Linked DNA regions of Homo sapiens: region 2 is linked to region 1. The links come from fine-mapping of genetic effects on gene expression. A gene starts in region 1. The other region holds a variant in brackets. All regions are shown on one strand. Distances are between the middles of the regions.

What was found. PIP is the estimated chance that this variant, and not a neighbour inherited with it, causes the effect. A credible set is the group of variants that fine-mapping cannot tell apart.
Region 2: its variant is the best candidate, but not a certain one, in a credible set for the expression of CIB2 in esophagus mucosa (GTEx, PIP 0.66).

The regions. Positions count from the first base shown.
Region 1 is chr15:78,129,157-78,133,535 of GRCh38, forward strand. It overlaps CIB2 (calcium and integrin binding family member 2), which reads right to left and starts at 2,289. Exons shown (of 6, transcript NM_006383.4): 1 at 2,009-2,289. The coding sequence starts at 2,059. RefSeq lists a silencer at 1,994-2,513.
Region 2 is chr15:78,207,730-78,212,108 of GRCh38, forward strand. ACSBG1 (acyl-CoA synthetase bubblegum family member 1) reads right to left here. Exons shown (of 14, transcript NM_015162.5): 2 at 273-373. Among named protein-coding and RNA genes, the nearest start is that of ACSBG1, 25 kb to the right of the region's middle. RefSeq lists an enhancer at 212-723. The variant G/A (reference allele first, on the strand shown) is at 2,373.

The DNA of each region.
Region 1 (4,379 bases):
CTAGGTGTCACTTAGGGGAGAGGGTGCTGTAACTCAGGCTCACCCCCACTCAGCCCGGGCTGGCAATGGCTGGCTGGAGAGCCAGAGGGTAGGAGATGTGGGGCTCTCAGGTTTCACAGCTCTCATTTCTCCCACCCCGCCTGGCAGGGTCTAGCTAGGCTCTGGCAAAGAATCAGAACATAACACTGGGACTGGCTCCGATGAGTAACCCAATGCCAGGCTGGTTGGAGTGGGAACCTGGGCTCCCCACCCCCATGAAGCTACTCCTCACTTCTGAGCATGGCTTGCCTGCTTGCCCCTGCCCACTCCCAAGCCTTTATCCACGCTGTCCCCTCCACCTGGAATGCCTCCTCTGGGCCCCACTGGGCAAAACCCGACCTATCTTCCCAAGGCCTGCTCAAGTGCTGTATCGTTTCTGGACTTTGTCCCCCTTCCCTGCTGGCCTCCCACTGCCCACTAGTGCCCTTCCCTAGAACACACTCCACCACCTGCCTCTATCACAAGGGCCACACACTGGAGGTGAGAGTCTGTCTCTGAGTGTCTGAGACTGAGTGCCTTGGGAACAAAAAGCACACATGGCCCAGCCCAGCCCACTCCCAACTAAAGAAGTGAGCCTAGGAGTCAAGATTCGAAATCCTGTGTGAGCCCTGAATGGCTCCTCAGCCTCTGTTTACACGTCTGTAAAATGGGCTAATAATCCACCTCACTGTGATGATCAAGTGAGTTGATGCGTAGAGGGCATCAATTACTGTGCCTGGTACACAGCAGGTGCTCCATAAATGCGTCTCCCCTCTTCCTTCCCAGGGCCTCACCTGGGGAGCTGAGAAATCCATTACTGACAACTAGGGCTTCTAGGAGGAGAAGGGGCCTTTGTTTTACCTTCACCCACATCAGAGGACCCACACTTCACACCTGCTTTCCTTCACAGCCAAAGTAAGCACTGATGAAGGCAACAAGTGCCTATGGAGACCCTGTTGGTGTTCCTCCTGCCCAGTTACACAGGCCACAACACAATCCTGCCCCCTCCGCCTGGGGAGTCAGGGGAGAGGCATCAGATGTGGGACTTGAAGGGTGAAAGAGATCCTCTGGAGGGGGGAAAGGCATCCAGGCCCAGGAAATGGCATGGGCAGAGGGAGAGAGGGAGGGAGGAATGAGCCTGGTGAGCTGGAGCAACTGCAAATGGTTTTAAGGCGGCTGCCATGCAGAGGGCAGGGAAGGGACCTGGGGAGACTGAGGCTGCAGAGATAAGCTGAGCAATTGGCCAGGGCTCCGGGTAAGCCAAGGGGTTGGGCTTCATCCTGCAACCACAGCGAAGTTTTTACCTGGGTGGGACGGTATTGGGATTCCAGATCTGGAAAGCTGGCTCTGGAGGCAGGAAAACCTAGAAAGGTCTAAGGAGGTGGCTACTGAGGGCCTAAGGGAGCTGGGAGAGGTGGCCCTGGAAGGCTGCTACCGGGCTTGCGTTCTTGCTCCAGTTATCTCCATGCTGGGGTCAGAAGGAGCGAACCCCAGCCGATAAACAAGACAGTCCCAAGGGAAGACTGCATGTGGGGACTGATGCACCCCACTCCTAGACCAGACAGGACGCCAGCTCTCATTTCTGCTTTACAGAGACTCGCTCTCCTGGGCTCCTTCCTGGGGCTGGGGGGCAGGGAGCGGGGAGGGCGGTCCTCCGTCCAGCCTAGTTTACTGACTCCCTCTCCGGGCCAGATGGGCGCTGGAATGGGTGGCTGGAGAGGGGTTCGGGTCCTGCCTAGGGCGAGAGTAGCTGGAGAGAGGCGCGCCTGAGAGGTTCTTCCAACTGGAAAGAGCTCTTATTCCACCGGTGGGGAAACTGAGGCACGGCGAGGGGAAGTCACCGGCCCAAGGTCACGCGTCGAGCTGAAGGCAGAGGCAGGGTTTGAACCTGGGAGAGCTGGCTCTCGGGAGGCCTCGGCCAGCGACCGAGAAAAGGGAGGGGCGGCGGGGCGGCGGGGCCTGTGTTGGGGGCCGGGCGCGCCGAGCTCACCTGGTAGTTGTCTAGCTGCTCTTCGGTGAAGATGGTCTGCTTGTTCCCCATGGTGGCCGCCGCGCCGCCGCTCGCCCGCCCGGGCTCCGACTCCCATCAGCGGCCGCCAGACCCGGAGCCAGCGCCCCGTGCCCGCGGCCCTCGGCAGCCCCGCGGCTGGCAGCGGCCCACGGTGGCCGGACCCTTCCCGCCCCGCAGCTCGCCTGGAGGAGGCGCGCGGGGGTCTCGGAGGCGGGGACGGGAACCCGGAGCGGCAGCGACTCCGCCGCCGGCGGGAAGAGGGCGGGGCACCCGGCTCCGCGGCTGCAGCGCGCCCGGGTCCCGGCAGGAGGCGACCTGGCCCCGGGAGACGCTGCCCGGCACGAACCCTTGGCTCCCGCGGCCGGAAGTGCTGGGGGCGCGCGGGGGTCTCGGAGGCGGGGACAAAGACCCGGAGCGGCGGCGACTCCGCCCCGCAGCAGGAAGAGGTGTGAGCCCGGGTCCCGCCGTGGGAGTCCAGGTCGCACGGCGTGAGGGTGCGGGGCCTGGGAAAAAACCCTCTCGAGGCGGGCAGTGGGGCGAGTGGCGCCCCTTGACCTGGGGCGGGGGCGGCAGCGAGGACTGTGAGTGCGTGGATCTAGCTGGGGCCGGGCTCCGCCACCGTCTCGCGTCGCGACCTTGGTCAAGCCCTTACCCGGGCCCTGTCCCTCTGGGGAGAAGGAGGGGGTCAGTCAAGCTGACATCTGAGGCCCTCCCGGCCAGGCCTCGGGAAGCCCATCTGGCCTTTGGGCGCGGCCTAGGCAGGGCATCTCAGACCTTCTGTGTTCCTTAGGGAGCAGGACAGGATTTACTTGGCTTGGTTACAAACGTGAGACTTGAGAGGATTTAAAGGACTTGACTGTGTCCACAGAAGTGTGACAAAGGCCAAGACATTTTTTGGAGCTTTTAAGCAGATGCCATTGTAAGGGAAGCAGGACTTTACCTCTGCCCTCCTAGGGTCTTTGGCTGGGCTTGAGAATTAATTTGGCATAAGACAGATTAAGGGGAGAAAAACAGATTTAATACAAGTTTTACATGACGTGGAAGCCCTCATAAGGAAATGAAGACCCTGAGAACTGGCAAAATCTAAATACTTTTTTTTTTTTTTGAGATGGAGTCTCCCTCTGTCGCCCAGGCTGGAGTGCAGTAGCGCGATCTTGGCTCGCTACAACCTCCGCCTCCTGGGTTCAAGCGATTCTTCTGCCTCAGCCTCCCCTAGTAGGTGGGACTACAGGGGCATGCCACCACACCCAGCTAATTTTTTTTTGTATTTTTAGTAGAGAGAGGTTTCACCATGTTGGCTGGGCTGGTCTCGAAATCTTGACCTCAGGTGATCCACCTGCCTCAGCCTCCCGAAGTGCTAGGATTAGAGGCCTGAGTCACCACGCCCGGCCAATTATTGTATTTTTTTTGTAGAGATGGGGTTTTGCCGTGTTGCCCAGGCTGGTTTTGAATTCCCAGGCTCGAGCAATCCACCCACTTTGGCTTCTCACCCAAAGTGCTGGGATTATAGGATGTGAGCCATCATGCCCGGCCTCATCTCCTGTTTTTTAGAAAAAGAAGGATGATCAAGAGTGCCCTTCTTGCATCTGCTATTTTTCAAGTGCCTTTAACTCAAATACTCAATATGCCAGAGCAGCATATGTTGTGGTGGCATGTTCTGAACTCCTTCCCCATCCACCAAATGGAGTCACCGCTATCTTTTTGGGGTCCAGCCCATACAACTGTTATTTCTAAACTCAGGACAACTGAATCAGTAGGTATTATCTCCATATTATAGGCAAAGAGTTGGGCTGAGAGAGGTTCAGTAACTTGCCCAGGGTCCCACAGCTGGGAATTAGTAGAACCTGGACTGGACCCAGGCACTGGCTCAACATACCATTCCACAACTGCCAGTGGACTTTGAAGAGATCAGGATTTTTTTTTATTTATATATATAAAAAAAAATAGAGATGGAGTCTCACTATGTTGTCCAGGCTGGTCTCCAACTCCCAGGTTCAAGTGATCCTTCTGCCTTGGCCTCCCAAAGTACTAGGATTACAGGCGTGAGCCACCATGCCTGGGCGAGATCAAGACTTTATGCTTTAAAATGCGTGGTTTGTTACTTTAGGATAGTGGTTCTGAAACCACCTGGGAGCATGTATCAAAATTACTTGGGAGGCTGCACCCCTAGATTTTCTGATTTAGAAGGTCTGGGGTGGCTAAGAATGTGGGTATCGAAAGGGTTCCTGGGTGACACTGATGCAGCTGGTCTTGGAACCATACTTTGAGAGTGCTTAGGCTGCTGAAGCTTGTGGGTTCTGATGGGAACAGGGCTTCAAGTTTGGCAGATGATCCCTCATGCTTTTAGTTT
Region 2 (4,379 bases), 79 kb after region 1:
ACCTGTCTCTCTATCTCTGGCCTCTCTTCTTCCCAGCTTTCTTGAAGAAGAAATCTCCCCATCCCTCATTCCTTTCCATCACGCCTGGCCCTGATGGCAGCCATGAAGGAAGGGGCTTGGTGGGGTCCCTGGGAGCGTGGAACCAGCAAGATCCCCAGCTGCTCCTTCCCGCAGTTCTGTGTGGTGGTCCCCCACACCACCCACCCCTCCAGCACACCCAGCACAGCACAGTTTCCCGCCCTGCCCCACCCTACCACCCCCAGCTGGCTTACCTGGAGCATCCCACTGGGCATTATTCACCTTCTCTGGCACTGAGAGCTCGAGAGCATGGTTCAGGGACTCTTTGGAGAGTGGCTGCCTGTCAGTCAGTGAGCTGGGGTGGTGAGGGGACCAGGAAAAACATTCATTAGAACGTGGGGGACCGGCCTGGGCTTAGGGACTCCGGCCTGGCACACATCTCAGCACCCCCAGGGGGACACTGGCACCTCTGTCTCCTGCAAATGCTGGGGCCATCCACAGAGGAGAACCCAGTGGGAGTCAGGGGACAAGACCTCAGTGGTTGTAGGGGCTGACCCTGCCCCCACCCAGCCTCCCTCCAGGCTCTAAGGGCTCAGGAGAAAGGGAATTCAAGGCCTTCTGTGCTCTACTTTGTGGTGTGACCCTGGGCAAGTTCATGCCTCTCTCGGGGTCTCAGCACCCCACCTGGATGAGGACGGGGCTAAGGTCCGCACTGGAGGATTCTGAATGCCACTCCTGGAGAGGGCAGACTTTTGGGGCGGGGGTTCCCCCATCTGTCACTCCCTGTACCCACCAGTCCCCAGCCATGCCCAGAAACTGAGTGGAGCTGCAGGTACTCATAGGGCTCTCAGGGGTCCTATTCCGGCCCCCCAGTGAGGGCCTCCCCTCTTCCATGTGCTTGTGGGTGCACCATGCACCCCATGTCTGTTCACTCCATGGAGAAGACAGACATAGACGGGTCCAGGGAGACCTGAGGCCCAGGGCCTGACCCAGATCCCCCTCGCCTCCCAGGCTCGGTGACCCTGGCTAAAGGGTCTCCCCTTCTGGCCAACCCAAGTTTCATGGGTTTCTGGGCTTTCATTATCCTTTCAGCCTGACTGCCCTTCAGCACCATTTTTCCTCAGAGTTCACCTGGCCAGACCTCAACCTCCTAGATGGCTGAGCAGCTGGATTTCAGTACACACTTTAGGACTGCAACAGGATTATAGAACTCCAGAGACACATTTCACAGTCAACAACTACGTAAACAGAATCCACTGGAGTTGTGCAGCATGCAACCTGTGCAGCTGGTCATGGTGTCCCTGAGGGTAGGACCCTGGCTCCAGGGAGCCCTGTCTGTCAGTTAGGGTGGGGCTAGCCCCATCCCTGCCCAGTTCCCAGGAAGCCGGGCCAATTACCTGCTTCTCACATTCAGCCTCACTCCTTGTCGGCACTGCAGGTTCCGAACAAAACTAAGTTTGTGAACACACCTAGGCCCACCTGGCAGCCATCTGCTTAAGAACCTGAGATAGGTTTTAAAGCGAAAGATATCAGAAGGTTATGAAGGGAGGGGGACGGGGAGAAGGGGGATGACTGGGGAACCAAGGTGGCGCCGTTCTTGCGAAATTTGTGAGCAAGGCCTGGGCCACAGGCCTGGAGCAGCCCTTCCATTGCTATGGCGACCCACTCCAGGGAGGTTGTGGAAAAACTGAAGAGATGGCAACGTGTGCTTCCGGGGCGAGGCCTCCTGTGCCGGGCAGACAGAGGCGTGTGAATGCTGCAGAACTCGTCCTACTGACTTTGGATCCTTGGTTACAGCTCTCTGGGATAGCCAGGTAGAAGCTGCCTCCACTTTGGGCCGCAATGTTACCAAATGGCCCCTGAGCTCTGGGTTCAGGCAGCGACGGCAAACGAGGGACACGTACACTGCTAGGCTCAGAGGCCTGCACTGTGATCATCTGGGGAAGACTGTGAACTTGGTTGATGTCCCTGCCCCATCTCAGCCTGTGTTCTCAGAGGACGGTGGACAGCACCCCAGGTTAGAGTTAGCAGCTCTAATCAGCCTCTGAGATCACCAGCTGGGCGGCCACCTCCACATTAGCCAGGCAGGAGGCTGTCCTTGGCTGTAATGTCCCACCATCTGAACTGCTTCCTCACAAACAAACCTGTTTTTAAATCCTCCTAATCAAAAGGTATGGGCAGCACTTCTCTCCCCACAGAAAATTAGTGTAAACTGGTTCTGGTTTTAAAATAGCTACACAAAGACTAAATGAAAAGACAGCCACCAAAGGAAGCCAAGGGTCAAGCGTACTTATCGTGATTAGAACCTTCTGTTTATAGGGACGATGAGGCTGTTGGCAGCACCTTCTTGCTGC[G/A]GGTGGGTGCCTTTTCCTGGAGGGGCAGCACCCAGTGCAGTGTCAAATTTCTTGTTGCTCAGACACTGATCTTGTCCAGCAACCATGGTCAATGAGAGGGTGGACCGTGGCCCTCTGCCAGCATCAGTTTAACAAGAACACCTTCCTTATCCCTGTGGCTGGCTCAAGGCACTGATTCAACTCTCTATGCCCTATGCTTACAGAATTTGGGGCGCATGATTAAAAGAATGTCAAAACCTAATTCTCCAAATGAATTAAGCCTGATCTTTTCCTCACTAGGGGCTTTGAGAGGTGGTCCCTTTGAAGAGATGTCATCCGAAATAGAATGTGCTAAACCTCCAGTAACTTCCTGCTCACACAGAGTTATAACCAGTAACAGGCTTTCCTGACCTGACTTGTCACACAGAAACAAGTGAAACTGCTCGGGCCATCTGCCTCTCCTCATTGTGAGTGCTGTCTCACACTCGTTGTTGTTCGTAATGGTCGTCTTTCAGTTTTTATTTTGTATGTATGTATTTATTTATATTTTGCAGACAGGGCCTTGCTCTGTTACCCAGGCTGGAGTGCAGGGGCACAATCACCACTCACTGCAACCTCAAACTCCTAGGCTCAAGCAATCCTCTCATCTCAGCTTCCTGAGTAGCTGGGACTACAGGACAGCACCACAAAACCTGGCTAATTTTTGTATTTTTTGTAGAGACAGGGTCTTGCTATGTTGCCAGGCCTGGTCTCCAACTCCTGGGCTCAAGCGATCCTCTAGCCTTGGCCTCCTAAAGTACTGGGATTATAGGCGCAAGTCACCATGCTCGGCCATTTTTTAGTTTTTAATCCTCTCCTCTGTGACTAGCAGTCACTTCTTGCTACTTTCAGTGTGCTGGCTTCTAGCAATTCATCTCACTCCTACATTGCCATTTCTTTTTGTAGCAGAATAGAAAACAAAACAGCCAAGCTCGTTAGAACTTAGGTTACATTGGGGGACAAGTTCCACAATGGAACCTATCATGTTTTCTTTGAAGAAAAGAAGCTAAGGTTTGGGAAGCTGCCCCTACTCTGTCTTAACTCCTCAAAAGCATTTTGGGCCCTTCTCCTGATTCTTGCTGCTATTCCAGGAAGGACAGGTGGCTGTAAATGATCCTACAGGTGAGTTGATATTACTGTCATTGTGATCATCATGAGCACGCCGAAGGCGATTAACATATTATTCCTGTCATTCTGGAAAATTATGCTCCTTCTGGAAGGCAATACTCCAGAGGTTGGCGGAAGTCACCTAACATGATTAATGACAATAATGGTGGAAGAACGGCCTGAGGAGGCTGACTGGCTTCTGTCTGCATTTTGAATTCCCAGGAGGAAGAAGAGCTTACAAGGTTGGCCCTTTTCACTCGTCTTTGAGGACGAGAACAAGGATTCATTCTCTGACCTCAGCTCACATAAGCACACTTTAAGCTCATCGCCTTGCTCTCCTTTCACAGAAAACAAAAACACTTTATCAGCAGCTACCCAGCAGCATGGGAACAAGAAAACAAAGGGCGTGTTTGAGCAAATATGATGTAAGATGTGTGGGGGGCAGAGGAGCCTGGGAGCGTCTGCACTGCGCCTTTCTCTTAACCATCTCTTGGTGGATTGGTGTCTCCTTACTCCTTCTACCTTGCCAGAGGAGCTGATGGGAACCATTTGCACACAGAGCCTCCCAAGCCTCCTTCAACTCCTCCTGCAGGAAGCCCTCCTAGATTTCCCCAACACCCTCTCACCCCTGTGGCCCTTGGATACTCAGGTTTGGGCTTTGATGGTCACACATGGCTTGACAGCTGGGGCCGCTTCTGATTCAGCTCTGTCCTCTGGCCATGAGTACTTACTGTTGGAGCTCAGTACATGTTGGTTGGACCTAAACCTTCTCAAGTTGTCACTATGTGTGTGACACATAAGTTGAGGAGGACCCTCATTTCCCATGTGAACGCTTCACGGATGAGGATCCGTTTCCCATTTATTTCTGTTACCCTTTCTTCT